Regions from separate parts of the Homo sapiens genome. Here region 2 is linked to region 1. The links come from fine-mapping of genetic effects on gene expression. Tissue or cell type: visceral fat. Region 1 holds a variant in brackets; the other region holds the start of a gene. All regions are shown on one strand. Distances are between the middles of the regions. Region 1 has its middle 22 kb from the start of TTYH1. Region 2 holds the start of TTYH1 (tweety family member 1).

Region 1 (5,151 bases):
CTTTTTAATATTCCATGTATAAGTGAGGTTGTGCGATATTTGTCTTTCTGTATCTGGCTTATTTCATGTGGCATGATGTCCTGAAGGTTGACAATTACATCCATACTGTAAATGACAGGGTTTCCTTCCTTTCTAAGGCTGGATAGTATTTCCACTGTGTATATATACATTTCCTTTACCCATTGTCCACTGATGGAGACTTAGGTGATTCCATATGTTGGCTATTGTGAATAACTCTGCAATACACATAGGGGTGCAGACATCTCTTCCACACACTGGTTTCAGTTTCTTTGAGCATATACCCAGTAGTGGGATTGCTGCATCATGGAGGGTAAGCTTTTTTTGTTTTGTTTTGAGACAGAGTCTCGCTCTGTCGCTCAGGCTGGAGTGCAGCAATCTCGGCTCACTGCAAGTTCCGCCTCCCGGGTTCAAACTATTCTCCTGCCTCAGCCTCCCGAGTGGCTGGGACTACAGGTGCCTGCCACCACGCCCGGCTAATTTTTTGTATTTTTAGTAGAGATGGGGTTTCGCCATGTTGGCTAGGCTGGTCTCGATCTCCTGACCTCAGGGGATCCGCCTGCCTCAGCCTCCCAAAGTGCTGGGATTACAGGCGTGAGCCACCGCGCCCGGCCACAAAAGCAAATTTATGACAGGGACCTGGTGATGCGTGCTGCATCACACCACATCCTTCCATTCCTTTTCACAAAGAGACTCTAGTGGCTCATGCCTGTAATCCCAGCACTTTGGGAGGCCGAAGCGGGCGGATCACAAGGTCAGGAGTTCGAGACCAGCCTAGCCAACATGGCGAAACCCCATCTCTACTAAAAACACAAAAATTAGCCAGTCACGGTGGCTCACATCTGTAATCCCAGCACTTTGGGAGGCCAAGGCCCACAGATCACAGGGTCAGGAGTTCAAGACCAGCCTGGCCAACATGGGGAAACCCATCTCTACTAAAAATACAAAAATTAACCAGGCGTGGTGGCAGGCGCCTGTAATCCCAGCTACTTGGGAGGCTGAGGCAGGAAAATCACTTGAAACCGGGAGGCGGAAGTTGCAGGGAGCTGAGATCGTGCCACTGCACTCCAGCCTGGGCGACAAGAGTGAAACTTTGCCTCAACAACAACAACAACAACAACAAAAAAAAAAAAAAAAAGAAAAGAAAAGAAAAGAAAAAGAAATGATGCCAGGCATGGTGGCTCACGCCTATAATCCCAGCACTTTGGGAGATCGAGGCGGGTGGATCATCTAAAGTCAGGAGTTCGAGACCAGCCTGACCAACATGGTGAAACCCCATCTACTAAAAATACAAAAATTAGCCGGGCGTGGGGGCAGGTGCCTATAATCCCAGCTGCTCGGGAGGCTGAGGCAGGAGAATCGCTTGAACCTGGGAGACGGAGCTTGCAGTGAGCCGAGATCACAGCCACCGCACTCCAGCCTGGGCAGCAGAGCGAGACTCTATCTCAAAAATAAATAAATAAGTAAATAAGTAAATAAATAAATAAATAAATAAATAGATAGATAGATAGAAATGAGCTCTCAAGCCATGAAAAGACACAGAGGAACCTTAAATGCATATTACCAAGTGGTAGAATCCCATCTGAAAAGGCTACGCATTGTCTGATTCCAACAATATGACATTCTGGAAAAGGCAAAGTATGGAGACAGGAAAAGATCAGAGCTGCCAGGGGTTGGGCGAAGGAAGGATGAATAGGTGGTGCACAGAGGAATTTTAGGGCAATGGCTCTCCTCTGTCTAACACTGTGACGGTGGGTGCCTGCCATTAGACATTTGCCTGAACTCATAGGATGTGCAACAGGAAGACTGAGCGAGCCCTAATATGACTTTGGGTGATTACAATGTGTCAATGCAGGCTCATCAGTTGTAATAAAAATACCGCTCTGGTAGGGAACGCTGGTAATGGGGGAAGCTATGTAGGTGTCGGCGTAGGGAGTACATGGAAAATCTCTACCTTCCCCTCATTTTACTATGAACCTGAACCTGCTCTAAAAATAGTCTTTTTAAAACATTTTTCTTCCTCTTCCTCCTCTTCCTCTTCTTCCTCTTCCTCTTCCTCTTCTTCTTCTTTCTTCTTTCTTCTTCTTATTCTTATTTTATTTTATTTTTTTTGAGACGGAGTCTCGCTCTGTCGCCCAGGCTGGGGTGCAGTGGCGCGATCTCAGCTCACTGCAAGCTCCACCTCCCGGGTTCACACCATTCTCCTGCCTCAGCCTCCCCAGTAGCTGGGACTGCAGGCGCCCGCCACCACGCCCGGCTAATTTTTCTGTGTGTTTTTAGTAGAGACGGGGTCTCCCCGTGTTAGCCAGGATGGTCTCGATCTCCTGACCTCGTGATCCATCCGCCTCGGCCTCCCAAAGTGCTGGGATTACAGGCGTGAGCCAC[T/C]GCGCCCGGCTAAAAATAGTCTTTTAAAGAAAATTTCTCAACCCAAGCACTACTGTATGGAGACAGGGAGGGTCTCCAGGGATTATAGGAATTTAATCAACTTGAGCAATCAGCCTGTTTCACAGCCTTCTGCCCTGCAGCCTGTTTTTCTCCAAACCCTGTGTGGAATGCGGCCACTCGTTGGTTGGAACCAGCCTCTGACGGGCCCTGGCAACTTAGAGATGAACCCGAGTGAACTTTCTGCACTGCTGCGCTCAAGTCTCCATCCCGGGAGGAGCTGTAGTCTCGTTACCGTAACATGCGACCCGTGTGCTGGTATGACGACTCGCTGCATCTGCGTGACTGGGACCCTCCTCCACATACAACGACGCGCCCTCTCCCTGCTCCCTCACCCCATAGAGCCCTCCTGTCCCTTTTCCTCAGGGAGACACTGCTTTGAAGAATACACCCAGTGCCTTCCTTAGCTGTGTCAAGTCATAAAACTCTTCTTGATCAAAACCTCTGTATTAGTTTGTTCTCATGCTGCTAATAAAGACATACCCGAGACTGGTTCATTTACAAAGGAAAGAAGTTTAATGGGCTCATAGTTCCACTTGGCTGGGGAGGGCTAACAATCATGGCGGAAGATGAAGGAGGAGCAAAGTCACGTCTTACATGGCAGCAGGCAAGAAAGAGCGTGCAGGGGCGCTCCCATTTATAAAACCATCAGATCTCGTGAGACTTATTCACTATCACGAGAACAGAATGGGAAAAACCTGCTCCCGTGATTCAGTCGCCTCCCACAGGTCCCTCCCATGACACGTGGGGATTATTATTATTATTATTTTGAGACGGAGTCTCGCTCTGTCACCCAGGCTGGAGTGCAACGGCGTGATCTCAGCTCACTGCAACCTCCACCTCCCAGGTTCAAGTAATTCTCCTGCCTCAGCCTCCCGAGTAGCTGGGACTACAGCTGCCCGCCACCACGCTCGGCTAATTTTTTGTATTTTTAGTAGAGACGGGTTTCACTGTGTTATCCAGGATGGTCTCGATCTTCTGACCTCATGATCTGCCTGCCTCAACCTCCCAAAGTGCTTGGATTACAGGCGTGAGTCACTGCCCCCCATCGACACGTGGGGATCATTACAATACCAGGTGAGATTTGGGTGGGGACACAGAGCCAAACCACATCACCTGCATTCTCGGGAGAGTTGTTTGCTCCTCACCAGGCAAAGGAACCCTGTTTTTTTCTGGGTAACACTGTTGACTTTCGGGGCTAGGTTATTCCTTGGGGGAGGAGCTGTCCTGTGCATCCCCCGCCTCCACCCCCCACCACCCAGAAGCATCCCCCTCTCCTCTGGGTTGTGACAATCAAAAGTGTCTCCAGACTTTCCCTAGTGTCTGCATTTGGGACCCTTCTATTATTACTGCTGATTCCATGAGTACATGGTAATTACCCGCTGAGTTCCAGGGACTCCACTATAATTATCCAGCTGGTTTTGGGAGCTCCTGGTGCAATTATCCAGCTGGTTCCTGAGACTGCACCGCGATTCCTTAGCTGATTTCCATGACTCTACACACTGCCAGCGCCTGTACATAATTATACACTAGTTTCTAGAGCCTTTCTGTAATTATTCAGCCTTTTATAGAAATCTAATCATAACTACCTGGGCAATTTGTTTTGTTAAGTAGAGTGCTAATGAGTGGTCGCCAATGTTTCAGCTCCTCTTCTGAGTACCAGGGACGTGGGTAGAACTTTGATCCTATCTTATCCTTACAGGATATTGAGAGGAGAGGAGAGAAGTTGACATGGCACCACCCAGTGGAATGACATAGTCAGCACAGAGTGCAGTGGGAGCACAGAGGAAGAGTGCCAGGCCCATCGTGTCCAGCTGTGTAGGTTGTGCACTGCACAACTCTGGGGTCATATCACAAACTGTGAGTGTGAAGAGCCTTGTAAGGCTTCCAGGACAGGTTTCTAGGGGTCACCAGATGCAGTTCTAGAGCAAGGCTGAGGAATCCTGACTCCTAGAAAGAAGGGGGCAGGGAATTGCTGAGGACGTTTGAAGTCTAATGGGATGACACGTCCCCTGCTGTGACAGGCAGCTCAGGTTTCTAGTTGAAGTCTGGGAAGAAGAAGGCTCCATGAAGGCGCTTCTATTTGGAGTCATTTGTGTTACTTCCCAGCTCACTCAGGGTGATCATGGTGACCAACAGGGCTCTACACAGGACCTGTGGCCCCAACCCTCACCCCTCTGCATTCTCTTCCTGCCACTTCCCTCTTCCTACCCCTCTGTCTGCAACTGCCACACTATTCCCCCTGCTGAGCTTTGCACCCTCCAGACCCCCTGGACCACCGCTGCACTTTCTCATTTATCCAAATCACTCTCACCTTCTAGCTGACTGTGACTGTATAATGCCTGTGGGTTACTGCCCCTCTCCTTCTGCAAGAATATAAGCTCTTCCATGGAAAGGGTGTTTGTTTTCTATATTGGTGGACCTCTAGAGCCTCAAACAGTGTCTGGCACACAGGACAGGACCAACAAATACTTACTGAATGAAAAAAATGAATGCCAGATGGAAAAAATAAAAATGAACTAAGCAGGGAGTTTCTCCACTGTGGCCACAAGAGGGAGCCCAAGCTATGTGTTAAACCCTTCCAGCACTAAGGTGGGTGGTCTCTCTGCTCCTCAGCCTGGAGGACCAGGGACAGGTGTGACCTGAACCACGTCCTTTCTCCTCTGTGAGCCTCTATTTCCCCATGTGTAG
Region 2 (5,151 bases), 22 kb before region 1:
AGACACACAAGGACAGAGAGGCGGAGAGAGCCAAGGCCCGGAAGACAGGCAGGCCGCGGAAACGTTCTGCGGTGGGCAGAGCCTTGCAGAATAACAGGGCTCTCCACGTGGCGGGGATTTCACAGCTGACCTGTGCGGTCCCAGAGGCCCACAGTGGCCCAGGGGGTTTGCACTGAGCCCCGGAGCATGGAGGGACAACATTGGGATCAGAGTCACACCTCTGGACTTGCCAAGGCTGTTTCCCCTAAACCACGGTGTTTCTGCCTTTGTCCACACACATACACACACACAGTGGCACAGTGTGTGTGTGTGTGTGTGTCCCAAGTGTGTGCAGTGTTTGTGTTTCTGGTTGAGACTGGATGTTTTTATCTTTGGGCTGTCTCCATGAGATGAGGGGGCACCTGAGTGTGTCTCCTGGGTGCACTGCTGTCTGCAAATGAGAACATCTGTGGGCATTTGTGTGTTCTGGGCACAGTTCCTTGGGCCTGTGAGTGGGTCCGGTTGTGTGTGTGTAACAGTGTGGATGAGTGTGTGTGTGGATGCGTGACTGCATGTGAGTGTGTGTGTGCACATGAATGCTATAGTCAATATGTGTGTGCATGTGTGTGTAGATGTGAATGGAATGTACGTGTGTGTGTGTATGGGAGTATAAACGTGTATGTGACGGTGCATGCATGAGTGTGTAAGCATATATATATAAGTGCAGTGTGTGCTTGTATATGGGAGTAAATGCTTATACATGTGTATGTGTGTGTTGTGAGTCACTGTGCGCAATGTGCGTGTGCATATGTGTGATTGTGTATGTGTAAGTGGGTATATCCATGTGAGTGTATGCATGTGTCTATATGCGTGTGTTGTATGTGGGTGTGAGTGCATAGCGGGAGTAGTAAATGGGTATGTGTGTGTGCATATGTGAGTGTGTAATGAGAGTAGGTGGGCGTGTGTGTGTACCTGTGCATATGTGTGTGTGCATGTGTGTAATGAAAGTAAGTGGGCGTGTCTGAGTGTGTGCATGTGAGTGTGCATGTGAGTGTGTAATGGGAGTAAGTGGGTGTGTCTGAGTGTGCCTGTGCATATGTGTGTGCATGTGAGTGTGTTGGAATAAGTGGGCGTGTCTGGGTGTGCCTGTGCATATGTGTGTGCATGTGAGTGTGTAATGGGAGTAAGTGGACGTGTGTGTGTGCTGTGCATATGCCAGTGAGTGTGTGCGTGTGGCTGTGTGCCTCCCCCGGGCCAGTGTCCCTGAGGCCCTGGCTGTGTCTGCAGCTGTACCCACGGTGGTCGCGTCCCTGCAGGGGTCCCCCTTGCCCTCCTCGGCTGTGGGGCTCTGCCCGCGCATCCCTGCCACCCTGACCCTGACCCCCGACCGTGGGGGCGGAGTGAGGCTCCCCCAAACCCGTGCCTCTGGCGGTGACTGGGGCCGCGGATCCCCGCGTGCGGCTTCGGGAGGTCTCCGGGCCAGAGCGGGCGTGAGTCTGGGCCGAGGCCGGAGCCGGTGGAGCGGCGTTGTTGGAGGTGGCCGTTGTGTAACCGCGAGGCTGTGGGCGAGGGGACGGCGGTCCCCGTGTGTGGGGAGAGGGGGCGGCGAGGAGCAGGCGGGGAAGAGCTGCTCAGGGCTGTGCCAGCCGTGACCCAAATAGCTCAGAACACAGCACTCATCCCCTCCGCGCTTTTCTGGGACCCCCTCCACGCCCCCTGAGCTCTCCAATCCCAGCCCCCTTCTCCCAGGAGCAACCCAAGACGGAGCCCAGGGGCTCAGGCCCCATCAGCAGGGCCAGGACCCGTCCTGGGGCCACATCGGGACTCCCAGCACCCCCACCCGTCCCCAGCTCAGCCAAGCCTTTCTCCTCATTAATCTCGAAGTCAAGGACTTGAATTAAACTGGGTCAGGGGACAGCTCTTTCGCCCATTGGAGCTGCCCCGAGCCGGGCCCCTTCCCCAGGGACACCGGCTTCTGTGAGGTTCCCACACCGGCCCCACCCTCGGGACCCGGGTCTGTCATCCCGAGGCTCCCCAAACCCAGCCTCATCTCGGCCCTCACCCCTGCAGCGCCCTGACCACCCCTTCTTTCTTGGGACGGGCAAGAAGCTTCCTCTCCCAGAGCCCCTTCATTTTCCAGCCCTGGTCCTCAGCCCCTGAAGCCCCCTTCCCCATTTCAGACTCTCAATCCCATCCCAGCACCGCAGCAGCCAGCGTTTTCCCCGCCACCGTTATCAGGTCCGCTGTCTCCTGGGTCCCACCTTATCTGGGACATATTCACCTGCTCTGATCCTGTGGGGCAGGGTCATCTTTTAGGGCAGGAAGAGTAGACCTACCCTCCCGATGACCCTGGAGGCCGGCTTCCCAGGCAGGTATCAGACACCCGGGAATCCGGGCCCCCCTCCCCTCCTCTCCATGAACTCAGGGGTGCAGGTCCCCAGCCTTCCCTTATTTAGAGAGCTCGAGGTCTGGACCCCCAGCGCGCGTCCCAGGAGAACCTCCAGGCATGGGCGCCCCCAGGCTCCTCCTCCCTCCGAAACCCCAAAGTCCGGGCCGGCCCCCAGCCTCCGGCGGAGCTCAGGAAATCTGTGACCCAGCCCCCTTCTCCCTCGGGACCCAGGAGCTCCGGCCCCCAGCCCTGGCCCCCAGGCCCTGGCGCCCGGTCCCACCTGCTGGTATTCCTGCTCTTGGGGCGCGAAAACGCTGGGCACCGGGCGGAGCTGGAAGTCGGCGCGGGGCAGCTGGTGGAGGAGATGCACCCAAGCTGAGGGCCGGTAGCCCGGGGGCGCCCCCATGGCCCCCGGGGGAGGGGGCAGCGGGGCGGACGCCGGGGCTGCGGGAGCCTCCGGAGTCGAGCGGGGCGCGGGCGGCGCGGGGTCTGGCTGGGCTCAGGGGAGCGGGAGCGGGGGGGAGGCAGGGGGTGGGGGGCGGAGATTGGGGGGAGGGAGGCGCGGGCCGGGCGGGGACGGTGCTGCCCCTGGTGGTCGCGGCGGGGACTGCGGGAGTCGGGAGGCCCCCAGCGCTCCGCGCCCCACCCCGGTCGCGGCTCCCACCTGCTGCCCGCGCAGGTACCGCGCTGCTGGCGTCGGCGGCATCCGGACAGCTGGCTTGCATCGCGATTGAAATCAGCCCTCCTTGTCCATACGAGGCCACTCATACTGTTATTTCACCTAAAACATAATGATCCCTTTATCCTTATGGAGAAACTTCATGTCTGTGTAAAGGTTGCTAGTAAGTACAGAGCGTTTTACAAAGAACGGCCAATTCCATGGATAAGAAGTCCTCTGTGTACGAAAGTGCTCCCACCTGTAAAAGATGCCCGTATTTGTGTAAAATCTCCGTCCCACTTTTATTCCTAGCCTGCATAAGGACACAGCTTCTAAGCACAAACACTCCTATGTGTAGAGGCTACTCCAGAATGTATGGAAAAATCCACACGCCTGTGTAGCAAGCCTTCATGCTGCATAAGGACCCCTTCTACCTGCATAAGGACCCTGGTCATCTATATAGGGGCCCTTCCCATCCTGTAAACTGACTCGGGATTACTTCGGTGTATACAAGGACCCCTGCCCCTTGGCATTCGCCATACAGTTACAGAGTATTTTTCCAGCCACTCCCCATGTTACATCTCACTGGAATCCTCCGATGCCACACCGATAGATGGGGAAGTGCCAACCCTGGGAGGGGACCTGGCCACCCTGACATCATCACCCAGACTGTCACTATTGCAGCCAAAACTAGGTGCTCAGGAATCTGGCCCCAGGGGTCCCCTCTTGCTGTAGGGCAGGGTGAGACTTTGCCATCTGGAAACCACACACGTGGCCTCTCTTGTGGGAATTGGGATGAGTGGAAGAAAGGGAGATTAGTTCTCCACTTAACCCATTTCCATATTTTGCTCCAGATTGGCAAGAAAGGGCTAGGGAAAAGAGGAATGCTGGTGGTAGCGGAGGTGGTGGTGATGACGATGATGGTGGTGATTATGTTGGTGATATGATGTCATGATGATGGTGATGGTGGTGATGGTGATGATGATGGTGGTGGTGGTGTTGATGATGGTGATGGTGATGATGATGATGATGGTGAAGACATGATTATGTTGACATGTCATGATGATAATTATGATGATGATGGTGGTGGTGATGGTGGTGACGGTGGTGATGATGGTGATGGTGGTGATGATGTTGGTGATGGTGATGGTGGTGGCGATGGTGGTGGTGGTGATGGTGGTGATGGTGGTGGTGATGATGGTGGTGATGGTGATGATGTTGGTGATGGTGGTGGTGGTGGTGATGGTGGTGGTGATGTTGGTGATGGTGGTGATGATGTTGGTGATGGTGGTGGTGGTGATGGTGGTGATGATGTTGGTGATGGTGATGGTGGTGATGGTGGTGATGATGCTGGTGATGGTGGTGATGATGTTGGTGATGGTGATGGTGGTGATGGTGGTGATGATGTTGGTGATGGTGGTGATGGTGGTGATGATGTTGGTGATGGTGGTGGTGATGGTGGTGATGATGTTGGTGATGGTGGTGGTGATGGTGGTGATGGTGATGTGGTGATGGTGGTGGTGGTGATGGTGGTGATGGTGGTGATGATGCTGGTGATGGTGGTGATGGTGGTGATGATGTTGGTGATGGTGATGGTGGTGACGGTGGTGATGGTGGTGGTGGTGGTGATGGTGGTGGTGGTGGTGATGGTGATGGTGAAGATGAGGATATGATGATGATGATAGTGATGATGATGATGGTGGTGAAGACAAGATTATGTTGACATGTCATGATGATAATGATGATGATGATGGTGGTGATGATGGTGATGAGGACGATGATGATGACGGTGAGGAGGAGGATAGTGATATTGGTGAAGGTATTGATGATGAAATGGGAGAGTGAGAATAGGCGCCTTATCTCTGTCTCTCTCTCTCTCTCTCACACACACACACACACACACACACACACACACACACACACACCCTCTCTCATCACTACCCTAGGTCTTCTTCAGCTTTCTCTGGTTCTGGCTAGAGTCATGTTCTCCACCATTCCCAACCAGGTGGCCTACATGGGGCTTGGGGATGAAGAAGATCCCGAGATGAGCGGTTAGAGGTGTATTAAGTGACTCTAGGCAAGTAGTTTTTCATCTTAGAGTCCCTCTTTTTCTGTCTGTAAAATG

The links. PIP is the estimated chance that this variant, and not a neighbour inherited with it, causes the effect.
Region 2: TTYH1 starts here. The variant in region 1 is the best candidate, but not a certain one, in a credible set for the expression of TTYH1 in visceral fat (GTEx, PIP 0.66).

What each region holds. Positions count from the first base shown.
Region 1 is chr19:54,391,042-54,396,192 of GRCh38, reverse strand. No RefSeq gene overlaps it. Among named protein-coding and RNA genes, the nearest start is that of TTYH1, 22 kb to the left of the region's middle. RefSeq lists an enhancer at 4,197-4,744. The variant T/C (reference allele first, on the strand shown) is at 2,404.
Region 2 is chr19:54,413,176-54,418,326 of GRCh38, reverse strand. TTYH1 (tweety family member 1) reads right to left here and starts at 2,863. Exons shown (of 14, transcript NM_020659.4): 1 at 2,649-2,863. The coding sequence starts at 2,774. LOC124904770 (LIM domain-containing protein A-like) reads right to left here and starts at 1,225. Exons shown (of 1, transcript XM_047439797.1): 1 at 1-1,225. The coding sequence starts at 1,191.